2 separate regions of the Homo sapiens genome follow, and region 1 is linked to region 2. Evidence: fine-mapped expression QTL. Tissue or cell type: whole blood. Region 2 holds a variant in brackets; the other region holds the start of a gene. All regions are shown on one strand. Distances are between the middles of the regions.

Region 1 (8,126 bases), 66 kb after region 2:
GTGTGAACAAAGGAAAAGAAGACACATTTGTTTTGATATGGCCTTTTTCATACTCCTGCTACCCATTCCCAATATGACCAATTGTCCTTGTTCTTGGCTGCCCATGTCCTAGCTCCTCCTCCCCAGAAGCTGAAGGGTTTGGAGCCTTCTTTTTTTTGAGACAGAGTCTTGCTCTGTCGCCAGGCTGGAGTGCAGTGGTGCGATCTCAGCTCACTGCAACCTCCACCTCCTGGGTTCAAGCAATTCTCCTGCCTCAGCCTCCCAAGTAGCTGGGATTACAGGCATGCACCACCACATCCAGCTAATTTTGTATTTTTAGTAGAACTGGGGTTTCACCGTGTTAGCCAAGCTGGTTTCCAACCTCAGGTGATCTGCCCACCTTGGCCTCGCAAAGTGCTGGGATTACATGCATGAGCCGCTGCGCCCGGCCGTGTTTTTTTATGTGAAAATTCACATATCTAAACGTGGGTCCCTGTTTTTGTATAGCCTTCAAGCTCAAAATAATGTTCACATTTTAAAATGGATTTTAAAAATAAAAATAAATAATATTTTGGGACACATGCAAATTATATAAATTCAAATTTCAGTATCCATAGAAAAATGTTTTGTTTTTGTTTTGAGACAGGGTCTGGCTCTGTTGCCCAGGTTAGAATGTAGTAGCACGATCTTGGCTCACTGGAGTTTGCACCTCCTAGGCTCAAGGGCTGCTCCCACCTCAGCCTCCACCTCCTGGGCTCAAGGGATCCTCCCACCTCAGCCTCCCATCTCAGCCTTCCGAGCATCTGGGACTACAGGTGCACACCACCACCTGTAGTGTAGTGTAGGCCTGGCTGGGCGCGGTGGCTCATGCCTGCAATCCCAGCACTTTGGGAGGCCAAGGCAGGAGGATCACTTGAGCCCAGGAGTTCAAGACCAGCCTGGACAACATGGTGAAACCCCCTCTCTACTAAAAATACAAAAATTAACCAGGGGTGGTGGCAGGTGCCTGTAATCCCAGCTACTTGGGAGGCTGAGGCAGAAGAATCGCTTGAACCTGGGAGGTGGAGGTTGCAGTGAGCCAAGATGGCACCACTGCATTCCAGCGTGGGTGACAGAGTGAGACTCTATCCCCCCCAAAAAAATTTTTTTCCAGCTGTGATAATAAAAAATATCCCATTCTCCTTTCTATGGTGGGAAGGAAAAGGTAGAAGTTGTGGAGAGGAAAGAGGTAGAAATTAAAGGGAGAATGGAAAAGAAGGGCAAACAAAGGCAAGTAGGTGAGGAGAAGGACAGGAAAAGAGACAGGGAGAAGGGAGGGACTTATAAATGGGAAAAGAAGGGTAGGAAGGATGGGAATAAGTAAAAACAACAACAACAAAAAGAAAGCAAGGAGAGAGAGTAGAGATGGGGAAGAGCCAGAAAATGCTGAGTGAGCTAAGAAAGGACCACCAAAAGAAAAAGGAGAATGGGGGTGGTCAGACAGAGGGCTATACCACTATCTTCCTCTCCTGTTTGCTTTCGTTTACTAACGTCCTGGTCACTCTGCCCTAAACAGCTTAGTTCCTTTCCCATAGTCTTTGTTCACTCCAGCACTATCTGACTTGAACTTGTACCTGTACGACAAATCTAACACCCTGGACTCTTAGTTCTAAAAACAGGACATGCATTCTGCCTCAGTCTTCCATTCCCATGGTCTCACCCTGGACCTTGGCATCATCAGAAACTCAGAAGCTGGGACATTTCAATTCCAAATATCCCACTCAGACCAGCAGCATCCATACTGCCAGAGCACTTGCTCATATACCCCACTGCAATCTTTCTTGGGCCAATGCTCTAAGACATTGGTCCCTTTCCCCACCACCCTCCAACCCCTCCACTACCAGGCTTCATGTGCCATTATTTGCTTTCCTGTATGGTTTTGATTCTACACACAGCATCATGAACATTCTCTTCCAAACACTCTCATCACTTGGCCCCCTCTCTCTGTTGTACTTGCCAGGCAAAATCCCAACCCTCAGTAAATGCAACAAGCTGCCTTCTCTGCCTGTGCCTGAATGGCCAAACATCTTCAATTATTTTGAATCCGTTACCTCAAATATCAAATGAGCTCTTAACGTTGGCCAGAAGGCCTTTTAAAGGCCTGTATGCACCAAGGCTCAGTTCTTGAACGTCTCCTTTTCTTCTCCCTTAAGATTCTTCCCTAATGAAGGGGGCAGGCGAACGGAGTTAAAGGGCTTCCATTGCTGTTAGAATACAGCCCAAATTCCTTTCCATAATCAAAAGTCCTGATCTGCCACCGACCTCACTTTCTCAACTTTTCACCTTCCATTCTCCCCTCATTTGACTCAGCCCTGGTCTCACTGTCACTGGCCTTTTTTCCTTTTTTTTTTTTGAAGCAGTCTCATTGTCACCTAGGCAGGAGTGCAGTGGTGCTATTACGGCTCCTAGGCTCAAGTGAACATCCCAGTAGCTGGGATCACAGGCACGGGTCACGGTGCCCGGCTTTTAAATTTTTGGTCGAGACGGGGTCTCGTCATGTTGTCCAGGCTGGTCTCGAACTCCTGGGCTCAAGCCATCCTCCTGCCTCAGCCTCCCAAAATGCTGGGATTACAGGCGTGAGCCACCGCGCCCAGCCAGGCCTTCCTTCAATTGCTTTAACATGCCAAACCAACTTAGATTTTTTGCACATGCTTTTCTCTGTGGGACACTCTATCCTGGTGTTTGCCTGGTTTCGCTCTTTTCTATCCTTTTGTCTTGGCTTGAATGTCACCTCTTCTGAAGCCTTCTCTGGCGACCCTGGCCATCTTATGTCCTACTTGTTATTTCTTCAAAATCGTACTGCCTTTTGTATGTACTGGTGTTTACTCATTCACACTGGCTACCTCCCCATACCTCACTGGCTGGAATGGAAACTCATTGCGAGCAGAGACAATAGGTTTTGCTCTCCCGCGGATCACGTCCCAGCCTCCAGCTCAGCACCAGACACTTGAGGGCGCAGGATAAAATATCTGCAGTCAGAAAGCACTAATAACCACCCAAGGGTTGGAGGAAAGCTGGCGCGGACCGCACGAGTGTCGCCGAGACGCCGCCGCCGTGCGAAGCTCCTCCCCTTCCGACAGGGCCGCGGACGCCCGGGCAGCCACGGCGGCGGGGCCGCGGCGGGCGCCGGCTCAGCCCGCCCCTTTCTCCCGCCGCCTCCCCGCCCCGCCCCGCGCCGCGCCGGCCGCTGTCAGCTCCCTCAGCGTCCGGCCGAGGCGCGGTGTATGCTGAGCCGCTGCCGCAGCGGGCTGCTCCACGTCCTGGGCCTTAGCTTCCTGCTGCAGACCCGCCGGCCGATTCTCCTCTGCTCTCCACGTCTCATGAAGCCGCTGGTCGTGTTCGTCCTCGGCGGCCCCGGCGCCGGCAAGGGGACCCAGTGCGCCCGCATCGTCGAGGTGAGGCCCGGGCAGCAGGCGGGCTCCTTGGGGCTTGACGGGATGCGGGCCGGCCTGTCCCGCCGCCCCTAGTCCGCGCCCCGCGGAGTCGCCGAGCCGCAGACTACGAGTCCCGGCGGCCACCGCGCCGCCCGCGTGGCAGTGGCCGAGGGCCGCCGGCGCGCGGCGTGCCGGGACTTGTAGTCCGCGCCCGCCCGCCTTGGGGGCCACCGCTTGAGGTCGCTTTGTTCCTGCGCCCCTTCTTTTCTTACATTTTGGGGACCAGATTCGTCTCTAGAGTGGGCTGGGAGAGGGATCCCGGAGGCCAACCTTTGGGGGTCCCCCAGCGCGCAGAGGTTAGCGTGTCGCTGATCGTGTGGCAGGTGAAGGCAGCAGGAGCGCGGATTTGGGTTAGAGGCCGTGTGCGCCCACAGTTGTCTGAAGGAGAGACCTATTTTTCTTCTCCGCGCCTTCCCTCTGGTTCCCTAAACTCCGCACTGTCACCGAACGTGTCTTTACTCTAGAAAGGAGGCCCGTGGGGCGGGGTGTTATTTTAGGCGTGCTGTGGGCTGCCGCTGGCACTCTCGAGCCCCGTCCCCGCAAGCTTTAGGGCGGAGCCAGCCCTGAGGCTCGGCCCGGGTCGGGGATGGGGAAAGCCGGGAGTGCTGTTCTGAGATCAAGCTTCAACCTTTGGCCCTGCTGCCAACTCACGCTCGGCCCTCGGTCACTTCCTGTCTCCCAGCCTCAGTTAGCCCTTGTAATACAGTAAAAAGAGTCTCTGAACCCAGATTTTCTCAGGATATAAAACACCTCCCAAATGTAAAATGCTGTTACTTTTTTTTCTTTTGCTTTGAGACAGGTTACCAGTTCAATTCTTTTAACAATTTTTGAGCTAGATGTATGGTTGGTTAGCTGCATTGACACTGTGGGAAAAAAAGGCTTCATGGACAATCTGGGGAATGCTTGGGAAAGAAGGAAAACAGGATATCTAGAAACAGAAGAGGCGACCATTGGTGGCCTCTAGTGAAATCACTCTGAAACCCTGTAACCAACAAAAGTTTTTTTGACCTAGAACTTATAATTTCCTCCTCTTCTAGGATATGGCCAATATTAGCATGGGGCTTTTGCTTCTCTCCTTATATGTTCATAACAATCAACTCCTGTCCTGTATTTTATTCCCTAAATAGCATCCAGAGAAAGTTAGATGAGTTCAACAAGTCATTATGTGTTGGACAGATGTATTTATAAATATTGATCATTTTGCCAGGCGCTGTGGCTCACTCCTGTAATCCCAGCACTTTGGGAGGCCGAGGCTGGCGGATCACGAGGTCAGGAGTTCGAGACCAGCCTGGCTAACATGGCGAAACGTTGTCTTTACTAAAAATACAAAAATTAGCCTGGCGTGGTGGCGGGCGCCTGTAATCCCAGCTACTCCGAAGGCTGAGGCAGGAGAATCGCTTGAAACCGGAAGGCGGAGGTTGCGGTGAGCCCATATCGCGCCACTGCACACTAGCCTGGGCGAAAGAGTGAAACTCCGTCTCAAAAAAAAAAAAAAAAAAAAAATCATTTTAGGTGTCAAAGTGGAACTAGTCCAACTAAAAAAATACATAACATTTACATCCTCTTAAAAAAATTTTTTTTTGTTGGTTCTCTTTCTTTTGTTGTTTTTTTGTTTTTGTTTTTGTTTTTGTGACAGTCTCACTCCGTCACCAGGCTGGAGTGCGGTGGTGCGATCTCAGCACACTGCAACCTCCGCCTCCCAGGTTCAAGCGATTTTCCTGCCTCAGCCTCTGCATAGCTGGGATTACAGGCGTGCGCCACCACGCCTGGCTAATTTTTGTATTTTTGGTAGAGACAGGGTTTCACCATGTTGGCCAGGCTGATCTCGAACTCTTGACCTCGTGATCTGCCCGCCTCAGCCTCCCAAAGTGCTGGGATTATAGGCATGAGCCACCGTGCCTGGCCTTGTCACTTGTCTTTTAAAAAGTAAAGAGACTGGCTGCTGCACTCCAGCCTGGGCGACAGAGCGAGACTCCGTCTCAGAAATAAATAAATAAATAAATAAATGGCAAGTGAAAAGTGGGAGTGATTTCAAATTTTTGTTTAGTATATGTGATCTTTCTTAAATAGCATGATGGGGGAAGGGGCAAAGACTTTAGAGTCAAAGAGATATAGGTTCAAACCCTGACTCTGCCATTTACTGTTTCTCTAGGCCCAGAGATGTTGTTGCCTTTAGTTCCCTGTGAAAAGGGAAAACATAGAAATGGCTGTTTTGTATGGTATTTGTGAATATTAAATGAGGTAAAATATCTGGCACACAGAGACAGATGCAGATAGTTTTTTTCTCCACTTTAAACTTCTGATCTTATTACCTCTACTTTAAACTTCCTGATCTTATTATATTGGTTATTTTTATTGGTGGGTTTTGTTGTTGTTGTTTGTTTTGAGATCGAGTCTCTCTGTGTCACCCAGGCTGGAGTGCTGTGGTACCATCTTGGCCCACTCCAACCTCTGCCTCCTGGGCTCAAGCCATCCTCTCACCTCAGTCTCCCAAGTAGCTGGGATGACAGGTGTGCACTGCCACTCTCTGCTAACTTTTTTTCAGGTTTTTGTAGAAACCAGGGCTCACTATATTGCCCAGGCTGGTCTCGAACTCCCAGACTCAAGGGATCTTACTGCCTTGGCTTCTCAAAGTGTTGGCATTACAGGCATGAGCCGCCATGCCTGGCCTGGTTATTTTTATTGCAAAATAGTATTTTTCTTTTAAATTACTTTATGCGTGTTATATTTGAATGCATTTAAATACAGTATGCTGTTTCTGAATCATAATATGCCTTTAAAATATCTGTACCTAAATTAATAATACCCATACTACTACACTGGTTAAAAAATAATCTACACATTCAGGGCTGGGCGCAGTAGCTCACGCCTGTAATCCCAGCAGTTTGGGAGGCCCAGGCGGGTGGATCACGAGGTCAGGAGATTGAGACCATCCTGGCTAACAAGGTGAAACCCCATCTCTACTAAAAATACAAAAATTAGCCGGGCGTGGTGGCAGGCGCCTGTAGTCCCAGCTACTTGGGAGGCTGAGGCAGGAGAATGGCATGAACCGGGGAGGCGGAGCTTGCAGTGAGCCAAGATCACGCCACTGCAGTGCAGCCTGGGTGACATAGCGAGATTCCATCTCAAAAAAATAAAATAAATAAATAAATAAATACATAAATGAAATAATCTACACATTCTGCAATTATTCTTTATTCTGTTCAGTAATGGCAAATAATATTTTAAACTTGTTAATTATCAGTTACAAGATTCCATGATGAGATATGTTCTGTAATGTATTATATTATTAAGATTTCAACAATTATTTGACCTTAAACTGTTATCTTCTTTAATGAAAAGTATTCTCTTGAGTCTAGTTGCCATAAACTTTATTAAGCTGTCAATCAACTAATTCCAAATAGTTTATAATTTAGCAATTGCTATTCCCTAGCTGGCTAGACAGACACTGGAATATCTATTTTTTTTTTTTTTTTGAGACGAAGTGTCACGCTGTCGGCCAGGCTGGTGTGCAGTGGGGCAATCTTGGCTCGCTGCAGCCTCCATCTTCTGGATTCAAGCGATTCTCTGCCTCAGCCTCCCGAGTAGCTTGGACTACAGGTGCGCGCCACCATGCCCGGCTAATTTTTGTATTTTTAGTAGAGACGGGGTTTCACTATGTTGGCCAGGCTGGTCTCGAACTCCTGACCTCGTGATCCACCCACCTTGGCCTCCCAAAGTGCTGGGATTACAGGTGTGAGCCACTGTGCCCGGCCTGGAATATCTATTGTTAGTGAAGTCAGCGGTATGTTGTTTTTTTCCTTTGTGAATCTCTTTATTTTGACTCAATATTTTTTTATACAGGCAATTATAAACTAAATTCCAAAATAATGTAAGTTTTGGAGGTTTTTTTCCTGTAGGAAAAAAATTACATAAATCCACGGTAAATTCTCCAATTAATCTGGCTGAAGCTAATGCAGCTCACAGGGCACCTGAAATTGTTACTTTAGTATGTTGATTTCCAACTCAGGCTGCCAGAAGTACATATTTGAGTCCTAGCTACAGAATCTTCAGTTGACAGGAAGAGAAGAAAAAGAGAAAACCAAAAACCCTTAGGGATATCTTGCTCTCTAAGGCACTGAAATTAGTGAAGTGGGTATTGTTAGAGGGAAGCTGGTATTTTTTCTCTGGAGGTGAATTCTGCTCTGCAAATTGCTCCTGGAGACCTAGAGAAGGTAAAGGCAAATCTGATACAGTGTCTTCTGAGAGTGTTCTGTACTGGGAAGGAAAGATTGGAGGGAGGTTTTGGGATTGATTTTGCACATTTATTTGTACTGATGTTTTTCAGTTTTGTTTGCTTTTCTCCTTCCTTCCTTCCTTCCCTCCCTCCCTCCCTCTCTCCTTCCCTCCCTCCCTCTCTCCTTCCCTCCCTCCCTCTCTCCTTCCCTCCCTCCCTCCTTCCTGTTCTTTCTTTTTCTTCTTTTCTTTTTTTTTTACCAAATACCCAGACTTGGAGAATTTGTTTTATTTTCTAATTGTTTGTAAATCTGTATCCTCTAATACTGAATTTGTTTTTGAAAATGAGCTATTTTCTAAATCAGTGTGATACTTAGAGTTAAGTTTCCAGAATGGAATTATTGTGCAATAATTTAGTTATAAAATCATGATGGGAATACTGTGTCATTCTTGAATTTT
Region 2 (8,000 bases):
TTCTAAAGTTAAAAAAAAAAAAAAAAAGCCAAAACAAGGGCATGGTGGCTCACATCTTTAATCCCAGCACTTTGGGAGGCCGAGACAAGCAGATCACTTGAGGTCAGGAGTTCGAGACCAGCCTGGCCAACACGGTGAAACACCGTCTTCACTAAAAATACAAAAATTAGCTGGGTGTGGTGGCGTACACTTGTAATCCCAGCTACTTGAGAGGCTGAGGCAGAAGGATCTCCGGAACCCAGGAGGTGGAGGTTGCAGTGAACCAAGATCACACCACTGCACTCCAGCCTGAGCAACAGAGCAACACTCCATCTCCCAAAAAAAAAAAAAAAAAAAAAAACACAAGATTGGATATTTTTTAAAATTCCAATCTGAAAACCCCCATTATTCTAGAAAGTAGTCTGCAGTTTACAGAGTTAAGGAGAATAAATAAAGATCCCATGGTTTGCTCCTCTTTGTCCTCAGTTTCTATAATTATTCTAAATAAACTGCAGACCTACTTTGGGGCTCACCCCATGGGGAACCAGACACTGGGTCAAACTGTAGTTTTTTTTAATTACTTTTTTTGAAACAGAGTTGGCCGGGCATGGTGACTCACACCTGTAATCCCAGCACTTTGGGAGGCTGAGGCGGGCAGATCATCTGAGGTCAGGAGTTGGAGACCAGCCTGGCCAACATGGAGAAACCCCGTCTCTACTAAAAATACAAAACTTAGCCGGGCATAGTGGCAAGTGCCTGTAATCCTAGCTACTTGGCAGGCTGAGGCAGGAGAACTGCTTGTACCCGGGAGGCGGAGGGTGCAGTGAGCTGAGCTGAGATTGCGCCACTGCACTCCAACCTGGATGACAGAGCAAGACTGTCTCAAAAAAAAAAAAAAAAAAAAAAAGAAACAGTCTCTCTCTGTCACCCAGGCTGGAGTGCAGTGGCGTGATCACAGCTCACTGCAGACTCAACTTCCCAGGCTCCAGCAATCCTCCCACCTTAGCCTCCCGAACAGCTGGGACCAAGGGCTAATTTCTGTAATTTTGGTAGAGACAGGGTTTCGCCATGTTACCCAGGCTGGTCTCAAATACCTTAGCACAAGCAATCGGTTCACTTTGGCCTCCCAAAGTGCTAAGATTACAGGCATGAGCCACCAAGCCCAGCAAATTCTAAAAATATGGAAATTACTATGATCCTTACCCTGCAGGAACTCAATCTAACATACACAAAAGAGCTTTTCTGTATACTGTGGCACACACAATGAGTGCTTAATTTTATCATATGATTAAAACATATACTATACTAAAAGGAGATGTTTCTCTGTAGTTTTCTGAAGGGACATGTTTATTGTCTTAACCATTATTGTAATCACAATGATTTAAAATGTCAAATATCACAAGGCTTATTAATTTCTAAAAAGTAATCCACTGCCTGCCCCATGTCACCTTACCAGTTCACCTTTTTTTATTTTTAGAAATGGAGTCTCACTCTGTTATTGAAGCCAGAGTACAATGGCACTTATCATAGATCACTGCAACCTCAAACTTCTGGTCTCAAGCGATCCTCCTGTTTCAGCCTCCTGAGTAGGTGGAACTACTACAGGCACATACCACCACACCCAGCTAAGTTAAAATATTTTTTTATAGAGACAGGGTCTCACTATTTTGCCTAGCCTGGTCTTGAATTTCAAATTAACCTCTTTAAACTGTTTCATGTGCTATTATCCTGGGATGTTTTATACCTACATTTTTCTTTTACCTTCAAAATTTATCCTACACCTGATCCCTTCCACGAATTCCACAAGTCCAAGACATCTTCATCTCACTTGGTCTTTAGTTTATTAATCAGTTAGTATCTTAACTTCCACTCTTAACATCCTTCAGTTCTCCACGAAACAATTAGAATGGTCTTCAAAAAATGAAAATCAGATCATAACACTCCATTATCTAAAATCCTCCACTAGCTTTAATGAGCATGCAATAAATTAAAAAATCTTTTCTATATCCTACAAAGCCCCATATAACTTGGCTCCTGCCTGTATCTCAGACTTCATTTCCTATACTCTCCCTCTCAATCACTATGTCCAGCCACACTGGCTTTCATGCTTTTTTCTGTAACTTTTAAACCCACACTTGCCATTACACTTGCTTTTTCCTCCACTTGGAATACTCATCCCCAGATATTATCATGACTGGCTCCTTCTCATCATTCAGGTCACTACTCAAATGTCACCCCCTCACAGAGATGGTTTCCTTTACCACTCTACTTAATATAACACCTTGTTCCCAGGTTACCATCCCAGTTACACTCCACTTGATCACTCTAGTTTACTTTTTCAGAGCAGTTGTCACTATCTGAAACTATGTTATTTGCTGCTCATGTGGTTAAATTCCATAAAGTTAGGAGCTTTGCCTAACCTAGTATTTGATATTTAGTGTCTAGTTTTGTGGTAGCACGTACCAGAAACTCAAATATTTGCTGAGTTTGTTTCCAAATTTGCTGAGGATATAAATTACTTTAGGCCAGGTGCAGTGGCTCATACCAGTAATCCCAACAATTTGAAAGGCCGAGGCAGGTGGCTAACCTGAGGTCAGGAGTTCAAGACCACCCTGGCTAACATGGCAAAACCCTGTCTCTACTAAAAACACAAAAATTAGCCAGGTGTGGTGGCCCGTGCCTGTAGTCCCAGCTACTTGGGAGGCTGAGGTTGCAGTGAGCCAAGATCACGCCACCGTACTCCAGCCAGGGCGACAGAGCGAGTATCTAAAAAAAAAAAAAAAAAAAAAAATTTACTTTAGAATCCGTTTTTTGTTTTGTTTTGTTTTGAGACTTAGTCTTGCTCTGTCACCCAGGCTGGAATGCAGTGGCGCAATCTCGGCTCACTGCAACCTCCACCTCCCAGGTTCAGGCAATTCTCCTGCCTCAGCCTCCCAAGTACCTGGGACTACATGTGTGCACCACCGTGCCCAGTTACAGGTAAGAGTCACTGAGCCTAGCCTACGATCCTTATTTAATGGAAAATTTCATAATGAAAAATTTCAAACATGAGAGAATTATTTTACAAATCACCATATACAATCAGTTTCAAAAATTACCAAATAGCCAATCTTATTTCATTTATACTCCTAGCCATTTCATTCTCCCACA[GAATT/G]AATTTGAAGCAAATCTCAGATAACATTTCATATATAAATATTAAGGTTCTATCACTCAAAAATAGACTCTTTTATATATAATGGCAATACGGAGAATCTTTAGAAATCTCGCCATCTCACAGTGGCTCATGCCTATAATCCCAGCACTTTGGAAGGCTGAGGCAGGCGGATCACCTCAGGTGAGGAGTTCCAGATCAGCCTGGCCAACATGGGAAGCCCCATCTCTACTAAAAATACAAAAATTAGCTGGGCGTGGTGGCGCACGCCTGTAATCCCAGCTGCTTGGGAGGCTGAGGCTCAAGAATGCCTTGAACCTGGGAGGCAGAGGTTGCAGTGAGCCAAGACAGTGCCATTGCACTCCAGCCTGGGTGAAAAAGCGAGACTCTTGTCTCAAAAAATAAATACATAAAATAAAATAGGCTGGGCACAGTGGCTCATGCCTGTAATTCCAGCACTTTAGGAGGTCAAGGTGGGTGGATCACCTGAGGTCAGGAGTTCACGACCAGCCTGGCCAACACGGCGAAACCCCATCTCTAAAAAAAATACAAACAAAATTAGCCCAGCATGGTGGCAGGTGTCTGTAATCCCAGCTACTCAGGAGGCTGAGGCAGGAGAATCACTTGAACCCAGGAGGCAGGGATTGCAGTGAGTCAAGATCGCACCATTGCACTCTAGACTGAGCAACAAGAGAGAAACTCCATCTCATAAATAAATAAATAAATAAATAAATAAATAAATTAAATAAAAGAAATTTCTCCGCCAGGTGTGGTGGCTCACGCCTGTAATCCCAGCACTTTGGGAGGCCGAGGCAGGCAGATCACGAGGTCAGGAGATCGAGGCCATCCTGGCTAACATGGTGAAACCCCATCTCTACTAAAAATACAAACACGGAATTAGCCGGGCATGGTGGCAGGAGCCTGTAGTCCCAGCTACACGGGAGGCAGGAGAATGGCGTGAACCCGGGAGGTGGAGATTGCAGTGAGCCGAGATTGCACCACTGCACTCCAGCCTGGGCAACAGAGCGGGACTCCGTCAAAAAAAAAAAAAAAAAAATTTCTCCATCTGTATCTGGAACCTAATATTATCAGATCCTCTAGGGTGAGGCCTGAGCTTGTGTATTTTTGAAGTTTTCTTCCGATTTCTGATTCATCCAGACTGTTAATATAGCCAAAGACTGACATCTGGAAATGGTTCTAGAAGGCTCAGAGTTGTCAGTTACATAGAAATCATATCAAGTAAAGACATAAAAGAAAATACCAGTTAGAAAATATATCATTTCTGAGTTAGAAGACTTTAAAGAAATTAGAATTAAAAACAAAAAAAAACCTGAACAGAACAGCAACTGTAATGAATAATAATACATTGTATATTTCAAAATTGCTAATAGTAGACTTCAAATGTTTTTACCACAGAAAAAGTTAAGTATGTGAAGTGATAGATTTGTTGGTCTGATTTAATCATTCCATACTGTAAACATGCATCTAAACATTGTGCCCCACAAATATATACAATTATTATTTGTCTATCAAAAAAAATTTTTTTTGAAAGTAGGATGAAAGACTAAATCAAAGAGACCTTACTTGGATACAGAAAGTGGCTGGTTAAATTCTTCTTCCACAGCAATGTTGCTCTCTTCAAAACTGGGAATATCAACTGCTTTTAATGAAGATGCACTACCTGGAAGACTTGTGACTTCATTATTAATATCGACAGAAAAATTCATGTCCTCACTGGAAATTTTGGTATCATCTTGCTTCATTTGAGAGTCAGGCTCTTGATCCTCACCTGCTGCATTCCAAAACAAGCTAGCACCTGGAGGTTAAATAATTTAAGATACTGAAACAAACATTCAACTTTAAAAATAATACTCTGCCAAACCTTTGTTAAGAATAGCCATATTGGCTGGGTGCAATGGCTCACGCCTATAATCCCAACACTTTGAGAGGCAGAGGCGGGAGGATCACTTGAGCTCAGGAGTTCGAGACCAGCCTGGGCAACATGGAGAAATCCTGTCTCTACAAAAAAAATACAAAAAAATTAGCCAGGTGTGGTGGTGTGCCTGTAGTCCCATCTACTCAGGAGGCAGAGGTGTAAGATCACTTGAGCCCAGGAGGTCGATGCTGCAATGAGCTGTGATTGTGCTACTGCATTCCAGCCTGGGCAACTCTGGCTCAAAAAAAAAAAAAAATATATATATATATACACACACACACACACACACACACACACACACACACACAATTACTTAGAACTAAGTTTTTAGATTATATTTCCTCAGAAATGCCAGGAAGAGGTAGGTGGAAGACAGAAAGACAAAACACTAGGGGACGGGTCGGGTGGAAGGGCACATTCTGGGTTCTGCTTTTTCAAGAAGGGTGGCTCTGAAATGATTTGCTTTACATATTAAGATTCTGAATATGATCCGTGGGATGGGGTGTGTATGTTGAAAACTGCTGCTCTGAATAATATGAGATAATATATAAAATACAAATCCCTAGGTTCTCTGGTTTTGACACTTAAATGCAATATTTAAAAGACTACATTGGTGATGCATCAGACATCTGTAATATCTGTAATATCAGGCAGGTATTAAAAAAAATCAAGTGTTTCCCAATCTTTTTTTTTTTTTTTTTTTTTTTTTAAGACAGGGTGTCACTTTGTTGCTCAGGCTGGAGTGCAGTGACACAATCACAGCTCACTGCAGCCTCAACGTCCCTGGGCTCAGGTGATCCTCCCACCTCAGCTTCCCGAGTAGCTGGGACTGCAGGTGTGCGCCACCATATGTGGCTAATTTTTGTATTTTTTTTAAAGATGGGGCTTCATCATTTTGACCAGGCTGGTCTCGAACTCCTAGCATCAGGCAATCCACCTGCCTTGACCTCCCAAAGTGCAAACATTATAGGCATGAGCCACTGCGCCCAGCCAATTTCTCAATCTTTATGAAGCACTTACACCTATCTTCAGAGCTATTTGCATGTAATATTGTTTACTTACTCTTTCTTTAAATTAACTCTTTTTTTACTGAGCCTCATTATTTCTCTAAAATCACAGATTTGATATGCTTATTGTATTTATACCTATGAGTATTGGAAAAGATATATTTACAAAATATAAATATTAATCTGTATAACACCCTAAATCATCTTTTGTACCACGAGCCATAGGCATTCTATAATTTGGGGAATATTGCTAATACATAATGGTTTAAACAGATGGTTAAAACCAAAAAGTAGCCTGGGCACAGTGGCTCATGCCTGTAATACAATCCCAGCCCTTTGGGAGGCTGAGGTGGGTGGATCATGCGGTCAGGAGTTGGAGACCAGCCTGACCAACATAGTGAAACCCCATCTCTACTAAAAATACAAAAATTAGCCAGGTGTGGTGGCAGGCGCTTGTAGTCCCAGCTACTCAGGAAAATCACTTGAACCCAGGAGGCGGAGGTTGCAGTGAGCCGAGACTATGCCATTGCACTCCAGCCTGTGTGACGGAGTGAGACTCCGTCTCAAAAAAAAAAAAAAAAAAAAGTAAATCATAGTCAAAATGGTTTCTACTCTGAGGATATACTTGGGTGATTTTATGAAAATAAATTAATACAAACAAGACTGGCTGGACGCGGTGGCTCACGCCTGTAATCCCAACACTTTGGGAGGCTGAGACAGGAGGATTGCTTGAACCTAGGATGGTGGAGGTTGCAGTGAGCTGAGAGTGCACCACACTGCACTCTAGCTTGGGCAACACAGCGAGACTCCATTTCAAAAAAAAAAACAAAAAACAAAAAAAAAACCAGAATTGGGTCCAGCCTAGAAAAGTAGCAAAATCAAACACTTTATCATGTTATGCAGTTTGCAGGTGTAGTTTTATTTCACAAAGACTAAAATCACACAAAAACTTAAGTCATACTCTCATCACCTTGGTTTTGGTCCTACTGCACCATGCACCAATTTGAACATAAAATTCAAAAACCAGATATGAAAAGCATTTTTAACAATTTCCTTACAAATTAAAAAAAAACTGAAATTACCTGTGCTCACAGCAATGCTTACACCTTTTCTCATGTGCAAGCCAGGGGAAGACTGTGCTTCCACAGAAACCAACTCCATTTGTCTTCCAGCTTGCACTGTGTCTTCAACAGCAGTTGTCTTAGGGGAACAGGGCATCAGAGACTGTGCTTCCAACAAACGCTGAATCTGTATCAATTAAAAACATACTTTAAACTGACAGGGAAGTAATCAACAAAACTGGCAGCAGTTTAATAATGAATTACAAAGCGCCCTAATTATAAGAAACTGACTTTTAAGTCTATTTTCTCAAATTTCAACTAGACCATACCATGAAACTTATTCAATATAGAAAGCCATTATCACTAGTTATTAAGAAGCACTTTAAGTATACTATTTTTTTTTTTTTTTGAGACAAGGTCTTGCTCTGTCACCCAGGCTGTCACCCAGCCGTGGTGCAATCATGGCTTATTGCAGCCTCAACCTCCTGGGCTCAATCGATCCTCCCACCTCAGCCTCCTGGGGTGGCTGGGATGACAGCCATGCACCACCATGCCTGGTTAATTTTCACATGTTTTGTAGAGATGGGGTTTTGCCATGTTGCCCAGGCTGTTCTCAAACTCCTGGGCTCAAGCAATCTGCCCACCTCAGCCTTTAAGTATACATTTAAAAGCAATACATAAAGGTGTTTAGCTTAGTATTCGTAAGTTGATACTCATGTAAAAAAGTGTGAATGGTTAATACTTCAAACTAACATTATATTCCTATTTCACTTATAAATCAAAAGTTAGATTGGAGGTATACTCTGACTCTCTGACTCCATATACCAAATACTGAACATATCACACAAGATTATTATAAAGGTAAA

Evidence for each region. PIP is the estimated chance that this variant, and not a neighbour inherited with it, causes the effect.
Region 1: it holds the start of CMPK1, and the variant in region 2 is fine-mapped to the expression of CMPK1 in whole blood (INTERVAL, PIP 0.95).

What each region holds. Positions count from the first base shown.
Region 1 is chr1:47,330,704-47,338,829 of GRCh38, forward strand. It overlaps CMPK1 (cytidine/uridine monophosphate kinase 1), which reads left to right and starts at 3,087. Exons shown (of 6, transcript NM_016308.3): 1 at 3,087-3,413. The coding sequence starts at 3,243. RefSeq lists a silencer at 3,000-3,639 and enhancers at 3,026-3,829, 3,830-4,633, 4,150-4,209.
Region 2 is chr1:47,264,921-47,272,920 of GRCh38, forward strand. It overlaps STIL (STIL centriolar assembly protein), which reads right to left. Exons shown (of 17, transcript NM_001048166.1): 13 at 7,156-7,321; 14 at 4,715-4,946. Among named protein-coding and RNA genes, the nearest start is that of TAL1, 37 kb to the left of the region's middle. The variant GAATT/G (reference allele first, on the strand shown) is at 3,130.